Regions from separate parts of the Homo sapiens genome. Here region 1 is linked to region 2. Evidence: fine-mapped expression QTL. A gene starts in region 2. The other region holds a variant in brackets. All regions are shown on one strand. Distances are from middle to middle.

Region 1 (5,215 bases), 48 kb before region 2:
AAAAAGCATTTAATAAAATTCAATATCCCTTCATGATAAAAACTATCAACAAATTAGTCATAGAAGGAGCATACCTCAACATAATAAAAGCCATATATAAAAACCCAGAGCTAACATCACACCAAATGAGGAGGAGCTGAAAGTCTTTCCTCTAAGAACTAGAATGGGAAAAAGATGCCCACGTTCACCACTCCTATCCAATAAAATGCTGGAAGTCCTATCCAGGGCAATAAAGCAAGAGAAAAACATAAAAGGTACCAAATTGGAAAAGAGGAAGTAAAATTATTCCTCTTTGCAGATGACATGCTCTTACATCTGCAAAAACTTGGAAGATTCATAAAAAAATTCTTAGATCTGATAAATAAATTCAGCAAATTTGTAGGACACAAAGTCAACATACAAAAATTAGTAGTGTTTCTACACATCAATGATGAACTAGCTGAGAAAGAAATCAAGAAGGCAATCCCATTTACAATAGCTACAAAAAATAAAATACCTAGGAATAAATGTAACCAAAAAGGTGAAAGACCTCTACAAGGAAAACTATAAACGTCTGATGAAATAAATTGAAGAGGTCACACAAACAAATCGAAAAACATCCCATGCTCATGGGTTGGAAGAATTAATATCATTAAAATGACCACCATACTACCCAAAGCAATCTACAGAGTCAATGCAATCACTATCAAAATACCAAAGTCACTTTGTACAGAAATAGAAAAAAAATCCTACAGTTCATATGGAACCAAAAAAGAGCTCAAACAACCAAAGCAATCCTGAGTCAAAAGAAGGCATCACACTACCTGAAAACAGACACATAAACCAAAGGAACAGAGTGTAAACCCCAGAAATAAACCAACTTATTAATAACTAACTGATTTTTCACAAAGGCATCTTGGTCAGAGAACATGCATTGGAGAAAGAATACCCTCTTCAATCCTCTTCAATAAATGGTGCGGGGAAAATTGGATATCCATAAGCAGAAAAATGAAACTGGACTCTTATCTCTCACCATAAATAAAAATAAACTCAAGATGGATTAAAGACTTAAACATAAGACCTGAAACGATAAAACTACTAGAAGAAAACATACGAGAAGCATTTCAAGACATCGATCTAGACAAAGATTTTTATAGCTAAGACCTCAAAAGCAAAGATAACAAACATAAACATAGACAAATAGTACTATATTAAACTAAAAAGCTTCTTCACAGCAAAGGAAGCATTCAACAGAATGTAGAGACAACTTGTTGAATGGGAGAAAATATTTGCAGACTATTCATTTGACAAGGTACTAATATCTGGAATACACAAGGAACTCAACTGAACAGTAAAAAAGCAAATAACCCCATTTAAAAGTGGGCAAAGGACATGAATAGACATTTCTCTAAAGAAGACATACAAATGGCCAACAGGTATATGCACAAATGGTCAACATCACTAATCATCAGGGAACTGTAAATCAAAACCACAAATACTATCTTACTCCAGTTAGAATGACTATTACTGAAAAGACAAAAAATAATAGATGCTGGAGAGGATGCAGAGAAGAGGAAACATTTATACACGGTTGTGGGAATATGAGTGAGTACAGCCACAATGGAAATACTATATTTCTCAAGAAACTAATAGTAGAGTCATTACCATACAATCCAAGAATCCCACTAATAGGTAACTATCCACAGAAAAAGAAATCAGTATAACAAAAAGATACTTGCACCCCATGTTTACTGCAGCACTATTCACAATAGCAAAGATATAGAATCAACCTAAGTGTCCATCAACAGATGAATGGCTAAAAAAGAATAAAATCATGTCTTCCACAGCAACATGGATGGAACTGGAGGTCATTATGTTAAGTGAAATTAGACAGAGAAAGACAAATTTTGCATCTTGCCACTCACATGTCAGAGGTAAAAATGTTGATCTCATGGAGGTAGAGAGTGAAATAATAGAGACGAGAGGCTAGGAGGGGTATATGAGTGGCAGAGAGGAATGAAGAAAGGCTGATGAATGGGTACAAGCATGCATTTAAATAGAAGGAATAAGTTCTAATGTTTGACAGCATAATAGTGTGACTATACTTAACAACATGTATGGTATATTTCAAAATAGCTAGAAGAGAGGACTTGAAATATTCCCAACATAGAGAAATGATAAATACTAGAGGTGATAGATACCCGAATTACCTTGACTTGATCATTACACATTCTATGCATGTAACAAAATACCACACATACCCCATAAATATGTACAAATATTACGTGTCAATTTAAAAAATGTATTTAACCTTCACCAATGTAGTTGAGAGGAGGAACTGTTTACACTGAATCTAAATTGAATTTTAAGCATCATTTAAATTAATTCATATAAAATTCACTCAGTCACTAGTGACTAATAAAGTGAACTCTAATAACTCAGGAAGAAATGTTTAGTTTCATATTCAAATTGTAAATTAAACCAGAGCAGTATTATTCAAATTTTTTTCAGGCATCAGGGTACCCAGAGCTTATAATGCATTTTGCAGACCACCCAAAATACTGATTAAGCTTCAAAATAAATAAATAACTTTTTGCTAAATCGGACCACTTTTTTTTTTTTTT[A/T]AACAGCATCTCGCTCCATCACCCAGGCTGGAGTGCAGTGGTACAATCACAACTCACAGCAGCTCTACCTCCTGAGCTCAAGCGATCCTGCCACCTCAGCCTCTCGAGTAGCTGGGACTGCAGGTGAACGCCACCAGGCCTGGCTAATTTTTGTATTTTTTGTATTTTTTGTCAGAGATAGGATTTTGCCATGTTGTCTAGGTCGGTCTCTAACTCTTAGGCTCAGGGAATCCACCCACTTTGGCCTCCCAAAGTGCTGGAATTACAGGCATGAGCCACTGCGCTCAGCTCAGACCACTTCTCACACCAGATTCTGTTATTTATACCTGAGAAAACGTATGGGTGGTAGCATGGGATGAAGGGAGATTAAACCATTATTTGATTTTAGTAGCGAAAATCTTTAGTTGGATTACACCTCAGAAGAATAGTTTGGGAAGCACTAAACTAGAGAATTATAAGCACAGCCACATTTACATGTGCAATTTAAATTAGATCTTTTAATGCCTTTTTAAAGTTTAAAAATACCAACAGCACCAAATAACCTCCTCAAATCTAAGCATCTATCATTTGCTTTCATCTTCTGCCTTCAGAAAATACAGATTTGGCTCAATTGAATAGCAAGCTAAGGTCACCAGGGCTCTCAAGATAACAGAACTCTTGAACTGACACACCACATTCTTTCTTACTGATTTCATCTAGTTAGGCCTCCGTGTGATTACACTGAGCATTGCACGCTCTCATTTAAGATCTCACTTGCCTCCATCTTCATCCTTCATTTCCCTAACTTCTCAAATCCTCACTGATCTTTGATTTTCTGGCTCTTATCTTGGAAGGTTATTTGTTTTGTTTGGTAATTGTTTGTATCTCCCCTCCCCACACATGAAGGGATCAGTGTACCTACTCTATTTCTTTTATCAAATAAACACAGCGCTGAGCAAAGAAAGCAACAAATATTTAACCAGCTTTTAACTTATCCACTGACATCTGTGAGATTTCTGAGGTTCTATTTCAATGCTCCTTGATATTGAATAGTTGCTTCAACTTAAAAAGTACTATTTTTCACCTTAGAAATATTTCTTTTGGCCAGGCGCAGTGGCTTACGCCTGTAATCCCAGCACTTTGGGAGGCTGAGGCGGGCAGATCACCTGAGGTCAGGAGTTCGAGACTGGCCAATATGGAGAAACCCCATCTCTACTAAAAATACAAAATTAGCTGGGCGTGGTGGCACATGCCTGTAATCACAGCTACTCAGGAGGCTGAGGCAGGAGAATCGCTTGAACCCGGGAGGCAGAGGCTGCAGTGAGCCAAGATTGTGCCACTGCACTCCAGGCTGGGCAACAAGAGTGAAACTCCATCTCAAAAAAAAAAAAAAAAAAAGAAAAGAAAAGAAATCTTTCTTTTGCCCTGTTTACCTTCCAGTTTATTTTTAACTCTTCACAAGGCTGTTGTGTCAGGGCCCTTGTGTCAGGGCCCTCAGAGTAGTGCTCTGGGTTATGAAGAAAATGTACAGAGACAGAAAGCCAGTCTAACGGTGTGAGCAAAGCAAGAATTTGACACTAAAAGTGACTACAGAGGCAGCAAAAAGGAGCACAGCCAGCAGGCCCAGTTCTTTCAAGAAAGAATACTTATCTCAGGAAAACTTGGCGCTGCTCTTCCATTTTATTTTTTCCTTTTTCTGTAAAATATGCTAAAAGATACCTACCTACATATCTGCTTTATATTGTCAATTTTCATGTAAAATCAGTTTGTACCTATTTTTTACTTTTATAAATTGATTGTACCACAAAGTTTTTAAAAATTCTAAATCTCTGAAAAACATACCTCTGTATTTCAATTATAAACCCAATTTTTATAACAAGAAGACTCAAAAAGAAAAAAAAATCACATCTTTCAGCTTACCATATATTGGGGAAAATGTGAAGTAGTTCAGGTGACAAATATTATAGGCTTCAATTCTAACATCTTTCCAGATTCCCTGGGTAGGAAAGGAAGGCCCCCAGTCCCAACTAAAGGAACATTGCTCCTGCAATTTCAAGGAGAAAAAGAAGATATATTCTGATTATGGTGAAATTTAAACATTATGAAAAACATTTTCTTTAAAAATGTTACATATGTGTATATAAGTTTGCTATGGCAGCCATAACAAAGTATCACAAACTAAGTGGTTTAAACAATGGAAATGTATTTTCTCACAGTGAAGTCCAAGATCAAGCTATCAGCAGGTTTGGTTCCTCCTGAAGCCGATCTCCTCTGTTTGCACTGTGTCCTCACATGGTCTTTTTCTGTGCTAGGCATCCCTGGTGTCTCTCTCCATTGTCCAAATGTCCCCTTCTTAAAAGGACACTAGTTGTATTGGAATAGGGCCCACACTAACTGCCTCATTTTATCTTAATCACCCCTTAAAGACCTTCTCCAAATATGATTACATTCTGAGATACCAGAGGTTAGGACTTCAACATATGAATTTGGGGGGACCACAAGTTAGTGCAAAACTGTGTGTGCCCCCCAACCACCATACACAGCCTCTGAGGTGGCCCACAATGATCCCCCCTTTGAAGTGACCTAGTGAATCACTTCTAACCACCAGCATATAGCAAAAATGATGTGATTTT
Region 2 (5,215 bases):
CATCACATGTAGAATAAAAGCCAAAGTGTTTCCTATGGCTCACAGCCTTTCATGATGTGCCCTAGACTTTGAACTCCTCTCCTACCCTCTGGTTCCCAGGTCTCCAGCCACACTGGCCTGCTGACTATTCCTGAAACTTGTCAAGCTCGTGCCTGCCTCAGGGCCTCTATCCTCCCCACTCCTGTGTTTTTCCTCTTTGCTGGAAATGCACTTCTCCTTAAAAGTGACCTTTTCAAACAGGTCTTTTTGTTTAGAAGTCACCTTATCAAAATACCTATCTTGAACCACTTTTTAAAAAATAGCAATGCTTTCCAACCAGCCTTCACTGTCTCTTCCTTTAACCTGCTCAATTTTTCTTCAGTGTGCCACCTGCCTTACATTATTTATTAATTTGGTATATATGTCTATCTCCTCCATTAGAATGTCCATTAGGGAAAGGACTTTGTTTTCTTTACCACTCGATTTCAAGTACTTAGAATAGTGCCTGCCACATTAGAGGTACAAAATAAATATGAGATAATTAACTAGGTGAATAGATAAATAAATGAATGATATCACCAAGATATGTTTCAAGTTCTTACACAAACACAATATTTGGCCCAGTGTCTACTATAAACGGTAGAATATTTCCTCAAGTCAACACCAAAAAGGGATGTTATAATAAAGCAGGTCGGACAACAGTCTCACATTACTGAATAACGATACTGATCTGATGTTGATGATTGCTTCTTTACTTTTTTTCTTTTTTTTTTTTTTTTGAGAGAGGGTGTCACTCTGTTGCCCAGGTTGGAGTACAGATCACGGCTCACTGCAGCCTCAACCTCCTGGGCTCAAACGATCCTCCCACCTCAGCCTCCCTCGTAGCTAGGACCACAGGTGTACGCCACCACGCCCAGTTAATTTTTTAATTTTTTGTAGAGACAGGGTCTCGCCAGTTGCCCAGACTGGTCTAAACTCCACCTACCTCTGCCTCCCAAGTGCTGGGATTATAGGCATGAGCCACTGTGCCCAGCCTGATGATTATTTTCAACAGGCCTTGTGTTTCCTAAGCCCCAAAAGCCTTCCCATTTCTCATTCCACTGCCATTTGAGACCCATGGCCACCTGATTGAAACCTCAAGGTTTTGCTAAGAATTTATGAAGAGAGTTAAGAAATCTCTTCAAATTGTTCCTATGAGGAAGTTATTTCATACTATGAGCAAATTCATTTTCATTAAGTATCTGTTGTAACCAAACGTTGTTTCTTAGCTTCTTAGCTCTGTAATATGGCACAATAATCTGACTTACTGAAGCCACTCATTATTTCCCATTGGCTTAATTCTTTCTTTCTTTTTTTTTTTTTTTAGAGATAGAATCTCTCTATGTTGGCCATGCTGGTCTTGAACTCTTGGCCTCAAGAAATTTTCCCACCTCGGCCTCATAGACTCTTTCTATGTTGGCCATGCTGGTCTTGAACTCCTGGACTCAAGGGATCCTCCTACCTTGGCCTCCCAAAGCTCTCACGTACCAGCACCCATTGGCTTAATTATTTCAGTAAAATCAGGCAAGGAGGAACCCTACAAAATAAACACAGGCATTCTCAAAGCAGATATAAGTGAAAACTCAGAGTATACTGTGGTCAGCTGTGTTCTCTATCACAAGTAGTTTGTCAACTTAAAATAAAGTACTAAAGTTTGGGAATGATCTACTCTAAAAATACATCGGACAATGGTCAATGTCATTTACAACATTCACCTCCTTTCTGATACACATCTCAGGAAAAAAAAAAAAAAAACTACTAAGTACCAGGTCAGAAATTTGGCACAACCCTAGATGACCACCTTGTCATGCAAATAAACTTAGAATGGTGCTCCTGAAAGTCAGCCACAGTGCTTCAAAAACACATGATTTTTTAAAACACCAAACTAAGCATACCACATAGTATAGAGACCAGGCTATGGAGTTGAGACCACCTGGGTTAGAATTCCATTTCTTTCCATTTAGTTGCTGTCACCTTCCTAATTTCTCTGTGTTCCATAATTCCATATTATCCATAAAATTCAGATATGAACACTTACTATACAGAGTTGTTATGAGGATTGGACAATGTATGCATCCCACAAGTAGATCAATTACAAGTACATTTTGCCCCAAGTAAAGACAACACGTGGGAACGCTGTGCAAGAGGGAACAGCAAAAGCAGTTGGAGGATGGAAGTCAGTTTGCAAACCTATGCGCACAGGCAGCCAAACACGAAAACGTTCCCCACAAGTAGTCTGTAAATTGGAGACTCCATTGGGATACACACACACACACACACACACGCCCTGAGAGGAAATAGCACCTTTCTTCATCACCAAGTTAGCCTTAAAAATTATTTACCCGTTGTTAGCCACACTAGCACTGACAAACCCAACTTTACTCTTGTAGGTCATTCTCCACAACGTCTGTGCTGCGTCAATCCCAAATCTGACTCCCTGACGCTTAACAGCGAAAATAAAAAACCGAGACATTACTCAATAGAGTTAACCCTTACTTAACAAAACGCTGTTGTCCCCTGTGGCGTGCAGACAGTAGAGACAGTAATTCCCGACCTTATGCTTGTCAGTGACGGCATGCCCTTTGTATACACGCTTCAGTAGAGAACGACTGCAGTAAGTAAACTGCTAGTAGCAACACTGTTCCCCTATCTAAACTTCCCCTTTCCAGAGTTACTGATGTCCCAACATGGGTCGGTCGCTCAGTCTCCGTCAAGCCCGTACCCCATAGCTTGGGCATTTCCCCCCGCAGATCACAAGATGCAAAGGGGAAGTTACTACCAAACCGACGAGAATGGCCCAGAGCTGGGGGCTGCCAGGCGGTTCCTGGGCCCCTCTCAGCACCAGAAGAAGGCGGGCGCAGGCTCGCCGCGGGTCGGCCGCACGCCATACCTGGATCAGGCCCTGCTGGAACAAGGCGCTGTGCACGCAGCCAGGGACCGCCCCGGGCAGCTCCAGCGAGCCGTTCCCATTGCAGATGCTCCAGTTGCCACGCAAGCTGTAACTGAGCTCCGCGGCGGTGGTGCCTGCACCGCACAGCGCGAGCAGCAGGAGCAGGTGGAGGCGCATCTTGAGATCCCGCGCCACCGAGATGTGGAGAGATCGAAAGGCAGCGCTGCAAGGGACCGGCGGTGAAGCCACTCACCCCCTCGGAAGTAGCCGAGGCTTTAGGTCCCCGCCCCGGCCCCGCCCCTAGGTCAGCTGAGCGCTCTCCGGGCGCAGCCGCGGGCGGGAGGGGAACGAGGAGGCTGCGCCTGCACCCGCTGAAAGCCGGGCGTCGCGGGTGCGGGAGCTGCAGCCCCCGAGAATAGCTACAGGCTGGGGGGCATTGCGGTCTGAGCCTTCCCTCGGCGCTTCTTCCCGCCGCCTCAGTACATACAACTGGAGGCAAGAATCTTGCACGGTAATTGGGACAGAAAGATCCCTGGGCGCGCAGTGGCACAAAGCCTCGGGAGATCAGAGACCGACTGTACGTGGAGACCATAGCTGGAGAGTCCCCTCACTCCTTCAGAGAACCCAAACTGGGAGACAACCCACCACTTCCCTTCCGCCAAATTTACACAGACCCTCGTCTACCTGGTAGCGTAACACTCACCCCGCTGCAGCTCAACTCGCGGGTCTCAGAGCCTACCCCGCCCTTCAAAGAGTAAACAAGTACTAGCAGTATCTCCATCAGAAGGTTGTTCTGAGGGCTAACCAAGAAAATGCGACTATAGCATGCAGCATGGAGCCTGGCCCAGAGAAGGCATTCACGTTAGCTATTGTTACTAGCGGCCTGCGTCCTTATGTTTCATAAAGCCCCACGGAGGTTTCTGAGGTTCTGGAACCTGCACTAGGCGCGCAGCTGAGTTTAAAATCCTCTGCACTCACTAGCTGTGGGACCTGGGCAAGCCGCAAAATCTCCATCTCCGTTTCTTGAAGTTTTCAAGGTGTTATAAGTATAAAATGAGTAAACATATGTGATCGTCCCTAACAATGCCAGAGTACCCAAGAAATACCACTGACTTATTTCGGGTCTTGTAGTCAAATGGTCTACCTGAGTCCCATTTTTGCAATAGGATGTAACAGTAATCCTAGAAGTTAAGACGGAATTTTACATTGCATAAAATAGACTGCCTTTCTCCTGTGTTGACGCTATCTGCCGTATATTTATGCTTCGGAAGAAGTCCTTGAAAAGAAATTTTCTCTCATCAAATCTGAGCTTTGTTTCGCCTTACAATGGCCTTGGAATTGCCTGATTCTGCAGACACCGGGCAATATCTTACTTTGCAAAGTCAGCATTATTTACAAGCCCTGAATATCTTGGCTTAAAGGACAGTATGGATTATCCAACCCAAGCCGCTGGCTTTACAGATGAGGGAACTGAGTTCAAAGAGATCGGGGCCAGGCGCGGTGGCTCACGTCTGTAATCCCAGCACTTCTGGGAGGCCGAGGCGGGTGGATCACTTGAGGTCAGGAGTTCGAGGCCAGCCTGGCCAACATGGTGAAACCCTGTCTCTATTAAAAATACAAAAATTAGCTGGGCGCGTGGTGGCACGTGCCTGTAGTCGCAGGTGCTCGGGAAACTGAGGCAGGAGAACCGCTTGAACCCAGGAAGCAGAGGTTGCAGTAAGCCGAGATGGCACTACTGCACTCCAGCCTGGGCTATAGAGAAAGACTCTAAAAAAAAAAAAAAAAAAAAGATCAGGTGACTTGCCTGTCACATAGTGGCAGACAGGATTAGAACCCTCCTCTTCAAGGTCCTACTGTCAGAGCCCAATGATGCTATAGGGGAAACGCTCTCACTGCTTCAAAGCCTTCCTCACTCACTCCAGAAGCATTTTTACCTTTGATAGAAACAAAGCTCTCAATTCAAATTATATGCCATAATTCACGGCATTAAATGGCTAGCCATGGTCTGTGCAACACTGATAACACAAGGTTTATGGCAACAAGAGCGGCAAAGGAATTTTTTCATAATTCCCAGAGATTTCATTAAGCCAAATCAGAGGAAAATTCATCCTTGATGATACATATGGATATATTCTGTTTATTAAGAAATATAATTTTTAGAAAAACAATAATAGAAGATTCTCATTCCTCCTTTCATTCCAGGATGCAAGCATAACATCATTTAGGTTACTTCACTTTGACAACAGAGAACATCAAAGAATAATCAAAGCCCTAATAAGTACTCTTCCTAAAATTGCAATTGGCACA

Evidence for each region. PIP is the estimated chance that this variant, and not a neighbour inherited with it, causes the effect. A credible set is the group of variants that fine-mapping cannot tell apart.
Region 1: its variant is the best candidate, but not a certain one, in a credible set for the expression of MANBA in lung (TOPMed, PIP 0.55).

Annotation. Positions count from the first base shown.
Region 1 is chr4:102,709,936-102,715,150 of GRCh38, forward strand. It overlaps MANBA (mannosidase beta), which reads right to left. Exons shown (of 17, transcript NM_005908.4): 5 at 4,503-4,626. Among named protein-coding and RNA genes, the nearest start is that of MANBA, 48 kb to the right of the region's middle. The variant A/T (reference allele first, on the strand shown) is at 2,604.
Region 2 is chr4:102,757,810-102,763,024 of GRCh38, forward strand. MANBA (mannosidase beta) reads right to left here and starts at 3,159. Exons shown (of 17, transcript NM_005908.4): 1 at 2,909-3,159. The coding sequence starts at 3,085. RefSeq lists an enhancer at 2,754-3,103 and a silencer at 3,194-3,323.